2 linked regions of the Homo sapiens genome follow. The protein of the gene in region 2 interacts with the protein of the main gene of each other region in a pairwise test. Each region holds a gene or a part of one and is shown on either strand. Other genes may lie near its edges.

Evidence for each region.
Region 1: the proteins of DSC2 (region 2) and PKP2 interact in a two-hybrid assay, tested with the Homo sapiens proteins (one study listed by BioGRID).

The regions. Positions count from the first base shown.
Region 1 is NC_000012.12:32,790,070-32,795,888, forward strand, and holds the end of PKP2 (plakophilin-2), read right to left. Parts: intron 2,663-5,819; coding exon 2,575-2,662; intron 2,424-2,574; coding exon 2,355-2,423; coding exon of another isoform or gene 2,210-2,354; 3' UTR 686-2,209; downstream 1-685. UniProt on the Homo sapiens protein: A component of desmosome cell-cell junctions which are required for positive regulation of cellular adhesion.
Region 2 is NC_000018.10:31,078,153-31,085,448, forward strand, and holds part of DSC2 (desmocollin-2 isoform Dsc2a preproprotein), read right to left. Parts: intron 4,909-7,296; coding exon 4,774-4,908; intron 4,272-4,773; coding exon 4,086-4,271; intron 2,201-4,085; coding exon 1,944-2,200; intron 1,838-1,943; coding exon 1,695-1,837; intron 1-1,694. UniProt on the Homo sapiens protein: A component of desmosome cell-cell junctions which are required for positive regulation of cellular adhesion.

The sequences.
Region 1 (5,819 bases), on a different chromosome or scaffold from region 2:
TGACATGTTAATCCCCTCTCTATTTTATCAGATAACCCTTTGGTTATTGCCATCAGATCTACACAAACGTTTCCAGTGATGGAAATCTAGGGCAGCAACCCCCTTCATTCCAGAAGACCATTAAGAATTCTTGACAGAGAGCAGCCCTTTGGAACAAATAAACAAAAAGGCCCAGCTTTGCCCATTAGTTTCTCTGAAGGCATGGGCCCTGTCTGGGACACATAGGAAAACAAACACATTTATGTATAGACCTGTGATCAAAACTGTTCATTCACAGAAGAACCTCCCTGAGAGGTGTTCACAAATTGTAAAGTAGTGAGGTGTTTGCAAACAGAGTGAACAAAGCAGCACATGGAAATCAAACGTAGTCTGTCTTTTCACAGTCACAGAATCACCCAATAATATACTAAAATCTAACCGCAGCTAACACGTCTGCATGTGTCTTCATTTTTATGGTCAGGTCACCATCTAGTCCCACCATTCTCACAGGAAATGTCTCTTGGTAAAAATTTAGGATTTTAATTAAGGGGAAAATATAACTAATTACAAAGTATCAAACCCTTAGTAATTGAAGTTTATAAGGTTAAATCCTCAAATTTTATGTCAATCATACCATATATTCCAAGATACACAAATAAACCAGATATACACAGACGCCAATGCAAGCAACACTACTTTGGTCTCATTTTGTATTTAATATTATCGAAGGCTTTATTAATGCCTTAAAAAACACAAAAAGTTCTGAACACACATTTATTATCTGGAGGAATAAATGCACTCCAAATGCTTATCATCAGAACTCTGGAAAAAGACATATAAATTCTCTCCAGTATTTTAAAAATTGGTATCTAAATAATTTCATTTTGAACTAGGTTAGCAACCTAAGTTGTCTTCATTCAGCTTTTAAAATTGAAAAAAAATTGCTTCAAATATAATAAAGACTTAAGTACACATTCAAAATTTATTTTCTGTTACAGTTTTCTTGCCAAAAGGAGTTGAAGAATTTTTTTGCTTATCTTACTTAGGACAAATGTTGTCAGATTAAAAAAAAAAATAACAGAATAGTAGTTGTAAAGACTAACTCTATATGAATGGTTTTAATCATAGCGCAGTTAAAACAACATTTAATGTAGATTCATTTCGCTGGATGATGTCAACCATTTAAAATATCAGTATTTCTCATATCATTTCTGGATGGTCTTGACACATTCTTACATCTTCTTCAACATGACTTCTTCACTTTTCTTCTCTAGAGTTTTCTTGAGTTAAAATAATGGCTTGAAGAAGATCATATGAGATCTAGTGGCTCTGTGATATTTCTTAAATGGTGGGCAAGGCTGGGCTGGCTGATAATGTAACTCATTAACATGAGCCGTATTTTCAGTGCCCCAGGCTGGCCAGGCAGTCTGAGAGAAGGCCTTAGTTCCTCTTGCAGATAAAGATAGAGTCCATTCTTTCACTAGTCCAGGGCAGTGGCCAAAAAAGTCCAGGAAAGGCATTACATAGAATGCCATCGTTTAGAAGAGATTTGGATTTAACGGCGTTGTTATAGGTAAAGTATCTCCTGAGAAAAATCTCATTGACTCAGTGTTTGGGGGAACGTTAAATTTTATCATCACAGTTGCCTTTCTCTGTGGAAAAGATTTTATTTATTTATTTATTTTTTATTTTACTTTAAGTTCTGGGAGGAAAAGACTTCTTTAATTTGCTATGATCACTTCCTCTCAATTTCTTTTTCTTACAGTCATGCATACTCTGTAATCTAAATTTCTTAAGTTTATTTAAAAATCAGAGAAAAACAACCCAAGGGGATAAAAACAAGCACAAAGTAAAGAAAGAAACCAATAATTTTGCCATTATACTTTCTCCTGGATAACTGCAGATATTTCTTGTCATTTCCATTCTGTTTCAACACTGCAGAACAATACACTGGAGGCCCAATGGCGAAGCAATGTGCACATGAGTGACAAAACATGGGAACCAGAAAAGGAATATAAATGTAAATCAAACTTTTAAAATCCCAGTAATGCAACAGCTTCTTTCCTTATTTATTGGATTAATGTCCCTTCCACATGAATTCACATTTTGATTCCAGGAAGCCATGTACCATAAGCCCTAATAACAAAGACCACTATTTGTCGAGCCTGTGGCCGGTATCTACTGGTGGCAAACTTGCAAAGGTCTTCTGGAAGACTCATAAAATTATGTTCTATTTGTTTTCTGGATTCAGGGGACCACGGAAATAGAGAAGGATAGAAACAAGGCATGCTTTTGAGGTTTCTTGGGCTGGGTAGTAGAAAAATAGGTGTTTTCCTTTGGGGATTTTTGCAGCCGAGAATACTTTGTCATTTTCCTCAGTCTTTAAGGGAGTGGTAGGCTTTGGCAGTCCGGCTGTTGACAAAATCTGTCTTCTTAAACTGAGCCTTTGGAATAAGCAAACAGAAACGTGAAAGGTAACAAAACTGGCACACAAGAAAATGCAGTTTTTTAGCGATTTCTTCCCAGGGTCAAGTCAAGTGGGCCATTATTACCTGGCTCTGTTAACTATGACACATTCCTTGTTCATGTTCTTACCTTCTTGTAGGCATGATGCAGTTCCGTGTGTGCCCACAGAGAATACAGAAGGACGGAAGCAGCTTTACTTGCTTTGTTGGAGGCATAGCTGAAAAGAAAAGGACATTCTGAGATCAGGGAGAATGAGTGAGGCTTCTGGATGCGGCCTGTGGGTGTTCTGTAAGACCTCTTCGCTCCTCAACTGCTACTCCGCAGCAGCCATCCATGAAGTCAGGCCACTCGGTGACCAGACAATTAGGCAGCAAGCTCTGCAAGGCGGGGACCATATCTGTTTTTGTTTTCTTTTTAAACCACTAGCACAGTGCTAATAAATAAATAGTTTATAGGCCAGGTGGGGTGGCTCACGCCTGTAATCCCAGCACTTTTGGGAGGCTGAGGTGGGTAGATCACGAGGTCAGACCATCCTGGCCAACATGGTGAAACCCCGTCTGTACTAAAAATACAAAATCTAGCTGGGCGTGGCAGTGTGTGCCTGTAATCCCAGCTACTCGGGAGGCTGAGGCAGGAGAATCACTTGAACCCGGGAGGCGGAGGTTGCAGTGAGCCGAGATCACGCCACTGCACTCCAGCCTGGTGACAAAGCTAGACTCCATCTCAAAATAATAATAATAATAATAAACAAACAAGTAATTTATACAGAAAAATCCCTGATATTTATAAGGAATGTATCTTTAGATATGTTATAAATCCTTGAATTATTTATAGAATATAATCTATATTTGTATACTTATAATGTATGTTTATAGAATAAAAATGCATGAAACCATGACTGAAAAATACATACGATTTTGTGACATCATGAATGTAGGAGTAATTTTTCAAGTCAATAAAAGAAATTCTTGTGGCAGCCCTTGTTAAAGCAGTTTCAAAATCTCTTTACGTTTCCATATAGAGCAAATGGAAAACTTGTTCTTGCTATAAATCAAAGTCACCACTGCATTTGAACTGTACTTAGTCTTTCATATTCTGCTTTTTTTTTTTTTTTTTTTTTTTTGAGGCTGGAGTGCAGTGGAGCGATCTCGGCTCACTGCAACCTCCGTCTCCCAGGTTCAAGCGATTCTCCTGCCTCAGCCTCCGAAGTAGCTGGGACTACAGGCGCATGCCACCACGCCAGGCTAATTTTTTGTATTTTTAGTAGAGATGGGGTTTCACTGTGTTAGCCAGGGTGGTCTCGATCTCCTGACTTCATGATCCGCCTGCCTCGGCCTCTCATAGTGCTGGGATTACAGATGTGAGCCACTGTGCCCAGCCCATGTTCTGCTTTTAACTTTATCCTAAATGTCCCACCTCTGGCTTAGATCAGTGCCGCCTTAGATCTCTTTCTCTTCTATCACCTGATTAGCACATGGCTGATTTTTTTTCTTAAACAAAGATTCTTTTTCCCCCCATATCACAGGCATTTGTAAACATAAAACCAAAACCAGAGAGTGCAAAGATGTACGGAGAAGAGCATGGTGTGTTCCTTCAAGAGTGAAAAGTCTTTCTCCTCCATACTAGCCTGGCAGGGAGGAGCAGTCAAATCAGCACTTATTAGTAACCCCTGGACTTTTCAGAATCACTTGGTAATAACTGAAGGGCAAATAAATCCATCAAAGTGATGGGTCTCTAATATTCAAAACTGTAAAAAGTTATTAAATTGCAAGGCTGTTATATTCATAATATTTGTTTATAAGTTGGTTGTTTGATACTTGGTACTCTTTTATTCAAAGATGTAATGTTATAAATGATAATTAGTTCCCAGGCTAGTCCACAAACGGTAGGTCAGATATATAACACTCTAGTAAGGAAAGAGCAGCAGACACCACTGGCAAGAAGCTCCTTGTTAACTTTTGTTTTTGAGACAGGGCATGTGAGGACTCACAAGTGGACACTCGGAAATAAACAAGTAACAGAGTAGCTCACCCCTTATCTTGCTAAGCTACCAGAAGTTTCCAAAAGTAATTGCATATTGCCATGTGCAACAATTGTTATGTCTGAATACTCGAATAATGAGCATCATACTATCTTACGGTGATTTGCTTGGAAGTTTGGATGACTATTTGGAAGAAAAGTCATTTCTGTTTTGCAACAGTAATTCACTCTTTCCACAAAGACTGAGCAACTCTAATACTATCTGCCAGCCTCTGGGGATGGGTGAATATTCTTGGGGAACTGACACTCCAGCCAGTGCTCAGGGCTTGTTTTAATCTGACTCTAAATGCAGTCTTCCTTCCTTGTGTGCACTGCAGAGTGGGGCTGCAGAGCAGAAGGGGCCTAAATTGGGTGGGGCTGTAGTAGAGGTAACATGTACATCCCTGTACAGCCAAGCACACATTTCTTCAGTACAGGTGAAGTCATCTGCTTTGTAACTCATTAAAACTAGGCTATCATAGCCATTTCTTTTCTTGTTTGGTTATTTACAAAAGTAACATATCTATTTGTAATAAGTCAAACAATTCAGAATTGTATAAAGAGAAAAAGATAATCTTCATGCCCCTTTCCAATCTCATCACTCTAAATTAACTAATAGTAAATAATTTGGTTATACAAGGTTTTTCATTCTCCTCCTTTTTTTTTTTAATAGGGAAAAGTTGAAAACAGGAACACAGATGTGGAATGACATGCATTGGACCTTCTATTATCAAAAGGGAATAAGATGCGGAAGAGATAAGACAGAGAAAAAACTGTGAAAGCAAGACTTTCTCATCAGGCTACCCCCTGACTGCTTCTCCTGTGTCATCACTGCTGCTGCTGCTTTTTTTTTTTTTTCTTTTTTGAGACAGAATCTCACTCTGTCAACCAGGCTGGAGTGCAGTGGCACGATCACGGCTCATTGCAACCTCTGCCTCCTGGGCTCAAGTGATTCTCAAACCTCAGTCTTCCAAGTAGCTAGAATTACAGACACGCACCACCACACCCAGCTAATTTTTGTATTTTTACTAGAGACAGGGTTTTGCCATGTCGGCCAGGCTGGTCTCGAACTTCTGACCTCAAGTGATCCATCTGCTTGGGCCTCCCAAAGTGCTGGGATTACAGGCATGAGCCACTGTGCCCAGCCCATCACTGCTTCTTCTAAACCACCTGGTGTGACATCCCCTCCTAAGATGGAAGTGAGGAAAAGGGCACTTGCCTATTCAGAGGACTCCTGCTTTGCCTACATTCTGCTGTTATTAAATCACAGCTGTGGCTTTGGGAAACTAATTCATTAGGCCAATACAATGCTGGAATGCACAACCAAGAGAAGTTCTGGAGTCTGACCCTCTGTT
Region 2 (7,296 bases):
GGAGTGGCAGGGAGAACCCAAATGAAATTAGCCAGTATAGATTTTAGAAAAAGGTTTTTCAAAAAATGACACACTTTTGTATAATCTCATTTCATTCAATTCACAAAGTAAACACATGTGGAATTACTGATTCACAGTTCTCTCACACAGAGTAACACAATGACTCCCACCCTCTTCAAAAGAAATGAATGCGAACAGCCTCATTACACATTTATTCTATATCACAATGATGATAAGCAGTGCCCCATCTCAATTCCATAACAAATATTTGATCTCTCAATCACTTAAACTCCTCTGCAACAGACGAGAATGTAGAATAAAATTATAGGCAAAATTTCTAATTTCAGACAGCAATTTTTATCTCAACTGTCAATAAACTATTTCCAAGTGCCGTTGAGTTTCATGTTTTTTTTTTCTTTTCATTTGCCTTTGACCAACAAGTATTTCTTGGCAAAAAGACATGAGAATCTGAGGCCTTAAAGGACAGTCTTTAATTAGTTAAAGACAAATCAATAATGATTACAACTTCAGCAATTTAACAAACTGAGTCATTTCTCATTAATTTACAGAGAACTGGAATACATAAATCATCTTCCAAAATCACTTCTAAATTCTAATTTTGCAAGTTATAGTATAATAATTTGTTTGTTATATTTAGCATATTTATTTTACAAAGACATAAAGTTCAAATTCATGTTATAGAAATTATATTTTATGCACCAAACGCGTCTCATAAATAATCATCATACTCATATTTCTCTCAATTTTATAGAATGCACAGAACATAATTTTACATTTTATATGATTATATGAATTCATAGTGTTTGTCTCTCTAATTTTATAATATACTATTTATTTACCATGATCATAAATATACCATGATTTATTTTTATATAATGTCTTTAATCAGAATTCTAACCCCCAAGTATATTGTTAGCTTCCTGTAAAAAGTTAGAGCTGTTTTCCAGGACTGCACTGTGTAAGTATGTTTTCCAGGACTGCACTATGTAAGTATGTTCTCACTTTCCTACAAAGTGAACACTTTAAGCGAAATAAGTAGATAAACTGAAACAAGTTTTGTTTTTGTTTTTGTTTTGTTTTTGTTTTTGTTTTTGTTTTGAGACAGAGTCTTACTCTGTCGCCCAGGCTAGAGTGCAGTGGCGCGATCTTGGCTAACTGCAACCTCCACCTCCTGGGTTCAAGCAATTCTCCTGCCTCAGCCTCCCGAGTAGCTCGGATTACAGGTGCATGCCACTACACCCAGCTAATTTTTAATATTTTTGGTAGAGACGGGATTTCACCATGTTGGCCAGGCTGGTCTCGAACTCATGACCTCAAGTGATCCTCCAGCCTTAGCCTCCCAAAGTGCTGGGATTACAGGCATGAGCCACCACACCCAGCTGAAACAAGTTTTACTAAAATAATTTTCTCAATTTTTAATAATTTTAACTTTAATAAATTATGGTCTCAAGTGTTTCTAAGAGTAAATTATTTTATAATTACATCTAAAACTGAGAAGGCTATTAGAAAGCAGACATGAGTTAATAAATTATAGTAAACCTCTTACTTTATATTATCAAGAGATATGAAAACAGAGTGCATGTATCCAGCTTTAAAATGTATACTGTTGGCTTAAACACTGAAGATGTATGTAGCCAAGGAAGTATGTAGCTGGCTTAAAGACAAATTCTTACCTTGGTCTGATGCAAGGACTGTAATATTATATATGCCATTTTTGATGGTCTCTGCCTCTCTATCCAGGCTTCTGAAAACTTTGATTGATCCTGTATTTTCATCAATGGTGACCCACCCTGTTGGATCAGTTAATTTCTTATACCTGTTGGTAATGATGAATTAAAATAATAAAATTTATCATATGCTAAATTATAATAACGTAACAAAATAAGCTATATATTTTAAAACTAAAATAGAATGGTAAGTACCTTATGCCACTGCTACTTCTTGTTTCTGGGTCATATGCTTTATATCCATTGCTTGTTGTTCCCACTTCTGCATTTTCTTTCATGCGAACAGTCTGTATTGGAGGGTTACACTCAGGGCCCTCATCCTGATCTTCTACATTAACAGTAACTGTTGCTGTGCTCATGGCTGATCTTGGACTAGCCTCTCTGGAAAATGGAGCTTCATTAACTACACCAATTTGCAAGATCATCTGTTGCTTTTCTTCATAATTCAAAGGCTACGAAAGCAAATGTATTGAAAAATCAGATGAACTCATTTAATATTTGGCAATGCTAACGAGTATATATAATGTTAAATTTGGAAATATGTTAAGTGTCATGTTGGGAATAACCACGAGAATATGAAACATATATCCAGTGATATGGTTTGGCTCTGTGTCGCCACCCACATCTCATGTCAAATTGTAATTCCCAATGTTGGGGGAGGGACCTGAGGGAAGGTGATTGGATCATGGGGGTGGATTTCCCCACTGCTCATGATAGTGAGTGAGTTCTCACAAGATCTGGTTGTTCAAAAGTGTGTAGCACATCCCCCTTTGCTCTGTCTCTCCTGTTGCCATGTGAAGATGGGCTTGCTTCCCCTTTGCCTTCCGCCATGATTATAAGTTTCCTGAGGCCTACCTAGTCATGCCTCCTACACAGCCTGTGGAACTGCGAGTCAGTTAAACCTCTTTTGTTTATAAACTATCCAGTCTCAGGTAGTTCTTTATAACAATGTGAGAACAGACTAATACACCCAGAAACCCAGTGGTGGTGGAGACAGAGGAGTTCTCCCACTGATTCAGTACTTGGGTAAAGCTGGAAAAAAAAAAGGACAGAAAATTGTTCTTCAACTGCAAATTTAAGATAAGTAGTATAACAGGTATTGATGAAGATTTCAGAGAGTATTTAATGAGGGTTCTTGGATATTAATACATGAGATACTCCTTTAGGGGATTCATACTATAAACAATAGTTATTTACTACAAAATAAATTTTAGGACAGCTTGTCTTACCCTCCTAAGATGAATAAAATTATTTGTACCTGGTATGAGGAAGAGAAAAAAATGGGTAAATTTTTTTAAAATGCTTTTAAGAGGAGCAAGACAAGAAAATACAAAGCTTATGGGCATCATATTTTCTTTTTTTATGTGTGTCTTCCATTCCAGTTCCTGTCTTAAAGACGGGAACATATTTAATAAAAGGTTTTATTTTATCTTGCCTGATATGTAGTTGTAATGAGAATTAGTGAAACCATGCCCTAGAAGACAGAAATTTTTTCAGGTCTTGGACTTCACACAAATTTCCTTCTGAGAATACCAAGGATTAGGGGAGGGGTTAGGTGAAGAAAGAGACAAGATTTAAAGGAAATTTCTCTGCTATTTTAAAATAGAGAAAATAATATAAAAACAGCAGCTGATTTTCATCATTGTAAGGAAAATGGATTCATCATTTTTTAATCCATGGTCCTTGTGAATATATACAAAAAGAAAACGGCATAGACCCACTGTAAAACCATGTTCTGGTTAAAGATGCAGCAGAAATAAGTCTATAAATTTGTCCAAGGCTAAAGGAGCTCAGATTGCTTTATGCACTAACTCTGGCTGCTGAAATAGTATTAGAAAGAAGTTTTAGAAGTGTTTGCATTGTTGAATCACTGAGGATTTTCATTCTGAACCTGGATGCTAAGGATGTAATATATACTGAATATGATGAACAAACCTATGAATAACCTCTCCATGGGGCTGACCAAGAGTAACTCTTGATTTGGGAAATTCAGTAAGTAAATAAAGGCTCCTTGACCCAAACACAGAAAAACTGGGCTAGGAAAAGTCTGGCACTGTCCCAGGGGCATCAAAGCTGTGCTAGTTTTTGAACCATTTAAAGATATTGGTTACAAAATAGATATTGTATTATATGGACTTTTTAAAAAAAAAAATACCTAAACAAAAGATTATCAAAAACTAATATATTCTTTCCATTGTATATGAAGAACAGAGCATTTGCATTTACTTATATACCTATTTTATTCTACATTTATCAGAATTCCTTTCTTTCCATTAAATTCTAGCATGCTATTCTATGATATTATAAACTACAAATAATGTTCTAATTTATTCTTACCTTAACTACACAAAGAACTCCTTCATTGGTTTTGGCATCTGTTACAATTTTAAAATTGCCATTTTCATTGCCCTTTAAAATGGTATAATTAGCTCTCCAGTTAGCAGTATTCACTAAGTCCTTATCCTCAACAGTAACTCGTAAGATTTCCACATCAACTGTATTTTCTTCCACTGATGTCACATACTAAAATAATAAAAGCAAACAAAAAATTTCGTTAGTAACTCTCACAAAAATTGAACACGATGTGAAGTAAATCCTACTCTTCTAATTTCCAAAGTACTATGTTTACATGATTTGAAACCCTAGCACTATACAACTTTTAATGTCACTGGGGCACTTCATTTGAAATCATGAGGGGTGGATGGGGATGTGCATTTTTTTCTTTTCCTTCACTGCAACCTCTGCCTTCCACGTTCAGGCGATTCTCCTGCCTCAGCTTCCCGAGTAGATGGGATTACAGGTGCCTGTCACCATGCCCGGCTAATTTTTGTATTTTCTGTAGAGACGGGATTTCACCATGTTGGCCAGGCTGTTCTCAAACTCCTGACCTCAGGTGATCCGCCCGCCTCGGCCTCCCAAAGTGCTGAGATTACAGGCGTGAGCCACTGCGCCAGGCCAGAGATGTGCATATTAAACAATTAAAACTGGTCTATACATTTTTCTTTAATTAATATCATACACTTACAGAAGTACGAGTAAATGTTGGCAAGTGGTCATTTACATCATCAATGTTAATGATACAAGTTGAAGTTGTCTGTAGACCAAAATACTGACCATCCATGTCTTGTACTTTTATTTTCAACTGGTACTTGTCAATTAACTGAAAACAAAAAAAGAATTTAATTATTGGGGGAAAGCACCAACATTATAATTGAAATCTTACTTTACACTCCATAATTTTTTTGCACTAAGAATTTAAGAAGTGCATTATTACATTTCACAGCATTCGTGTATTAGAAGAATTTTCTCTCACTAGTAATTTTTCTTTTCTTTTCTTTCTTTTTCTTTTCTGAGACGAAGTCTCGCTCTGTTGCCCAGGCTGGAGTGCAGTGGTGTGATCTTGGCTCACTGCAACCTCTGCCTCCCGGGTTCAAGCGAGGCAGGAGAATCACACTAGGAATTTTTAATCAATTTATGAAAATTGAATAGTTTCTCAAATTTATAGTGCTATTAACTTACAGAATATAGATTCAATTGGTTTTGTCTTTATTCAACAGAAAAAGAAGAGCTATTTGCCACAAGTGCATTTAAAATTGCCTGGTAATTAATCAAAACCTTTATCTCCTAGCCAAAGTACATTCTTATGTTCAAAAAAATAGACAGCAATGACTCTTAAAATAGTCTTTTAACAAAACAATAAAATGAAATTTCTTCCTGCAAAAAATATAGATTTTAAGGGTTTATGTTACATTTAAGAGATCATCTAAACTGACATGAAGATAAAGGTCTGGGGCTATGTAGGTTTTTTTCTTTCTGTGGAAAATAGAATCTGGCTCTTAAGGCTTTCAATTTATCAGATATTGTTGAAAACTCATCACTACCTTAAAAAATATTTTTAAACATCTGAAGCATTTAAATATTTTAAAGTGTTTCTCCTTATAACTTTCATTTATCATAAGTGATTGAGATATGGGAGAATTAAAAACAATACAGTAATAATGCTTTCCGGACTGAGCATTAGGAGACTTGGGTTCTATTTCCAACTCCAAAAATAAGAGACACAATCTTGGGCAATTGGAAAATTCACTTTGTCTAGGTTTCTTCTTCTATAAGATGGTGATGCTTACCTTTCCTACCTAATTTATCTCTTTTCATAAGACAAAATAGCATGTTAAAATCTATCCTCATCTTCTACCTAGAATGTTCACCCTTCTCTTACAAAGATTCTTCCCTTAATTCCATCATCTCTGAAACTTTCTTTTCCTTAGGCATTATCTAAAATAAAACTAAAGTTTCTCTTGATCTTCCTGCTTTTAACACACATAATTTTCCAGATTTACTCCTCCCTCATAACCAATCACATGTGTAGACTTGAAAAATAATGGCCTTATTTCAACTGAAAAATTTTAAAACATCATGCTACTGTACTTTCAAGAAGGAATACATATTTTGTTTGTAGTGAACTAAAATTTATTGGAAATAATTAACTGGCTAATGAAACAAGGAAATGAAGTTTGATACCCTAAGTATTAACTTATGCTATCTTCAGATGGAAGAGAAATTCTGATGTTTAAAGGGACTAAAAGGTTGTAGGCAACTGAAGAAAACCGGAATCCTGAGGTCAAAAAGTTACTAGAGAGCACCACTGGATAAACACCTTCACTGGACAAGTGTTTTCAACTGATTATTTCAGAAGAATCTATTCAAAGAAAAGCACTTCTGTGATTGTTTGATTTAGGAGCTGAACAAGCTGTTGAGTTTTTGCTTTTTTTTTTTTTCCATAGAATGCTATTTTCACATAGACATCTATGGCTATGCAGACTATAGTTTTATGAAAGTATTTTGTAAAACATAAAGTTAATCTGTCACTTCAGGGAAAACAACTATTTGTTGCCAATGATAAATTGGAGATTTCAAACAAAAATGAGAAGCTTGGAAAACCTTTATCAACCAATGTGATATCAATGGAAGTAAAGAGGTGATCTTTTTGATATTATTTAATGCAATGTGTCAATATTTGGAAGCTCTGCATTACTTGGTGAACCAATATTTTCCAAATGACCAATGCACAATATAGAATGATGTACTGGTAAAATGGTCACTCAAAGTGTAAGATAGAGCAATGGATTTTAACGTAATAAAGTACAAAAGGTCATTGTTGAGGATTCAGAGTCCACATTACCAAAAACATTTAGGAAACAAGCTACTCCTTATCAAGTATTCATGTAGTATCAAGGAATAATATCCACAGTGATCTGTAATTATCATCAAAATACTACTCTCTTTTCTAATTTTATATCATGTCAGATTGCCTTTATATATGCTTCAGCTAAAACTACATATTGTAACAGACTAAATGCAGAAGGAGATATGAGAATCCACCTGTCTTAAGCAAAATACTAAAAACATTTGGAAAAATGCATAACAATGTCATTCTTCCCACTAAATTGTACTGTTTTGGAAAATGTACTTATTTTGTAAGTACAAAAAGAAGAAAAAGTGTAACAATTTTTACTGTTATTTTATAAGAATTTTAACTGTTAACATG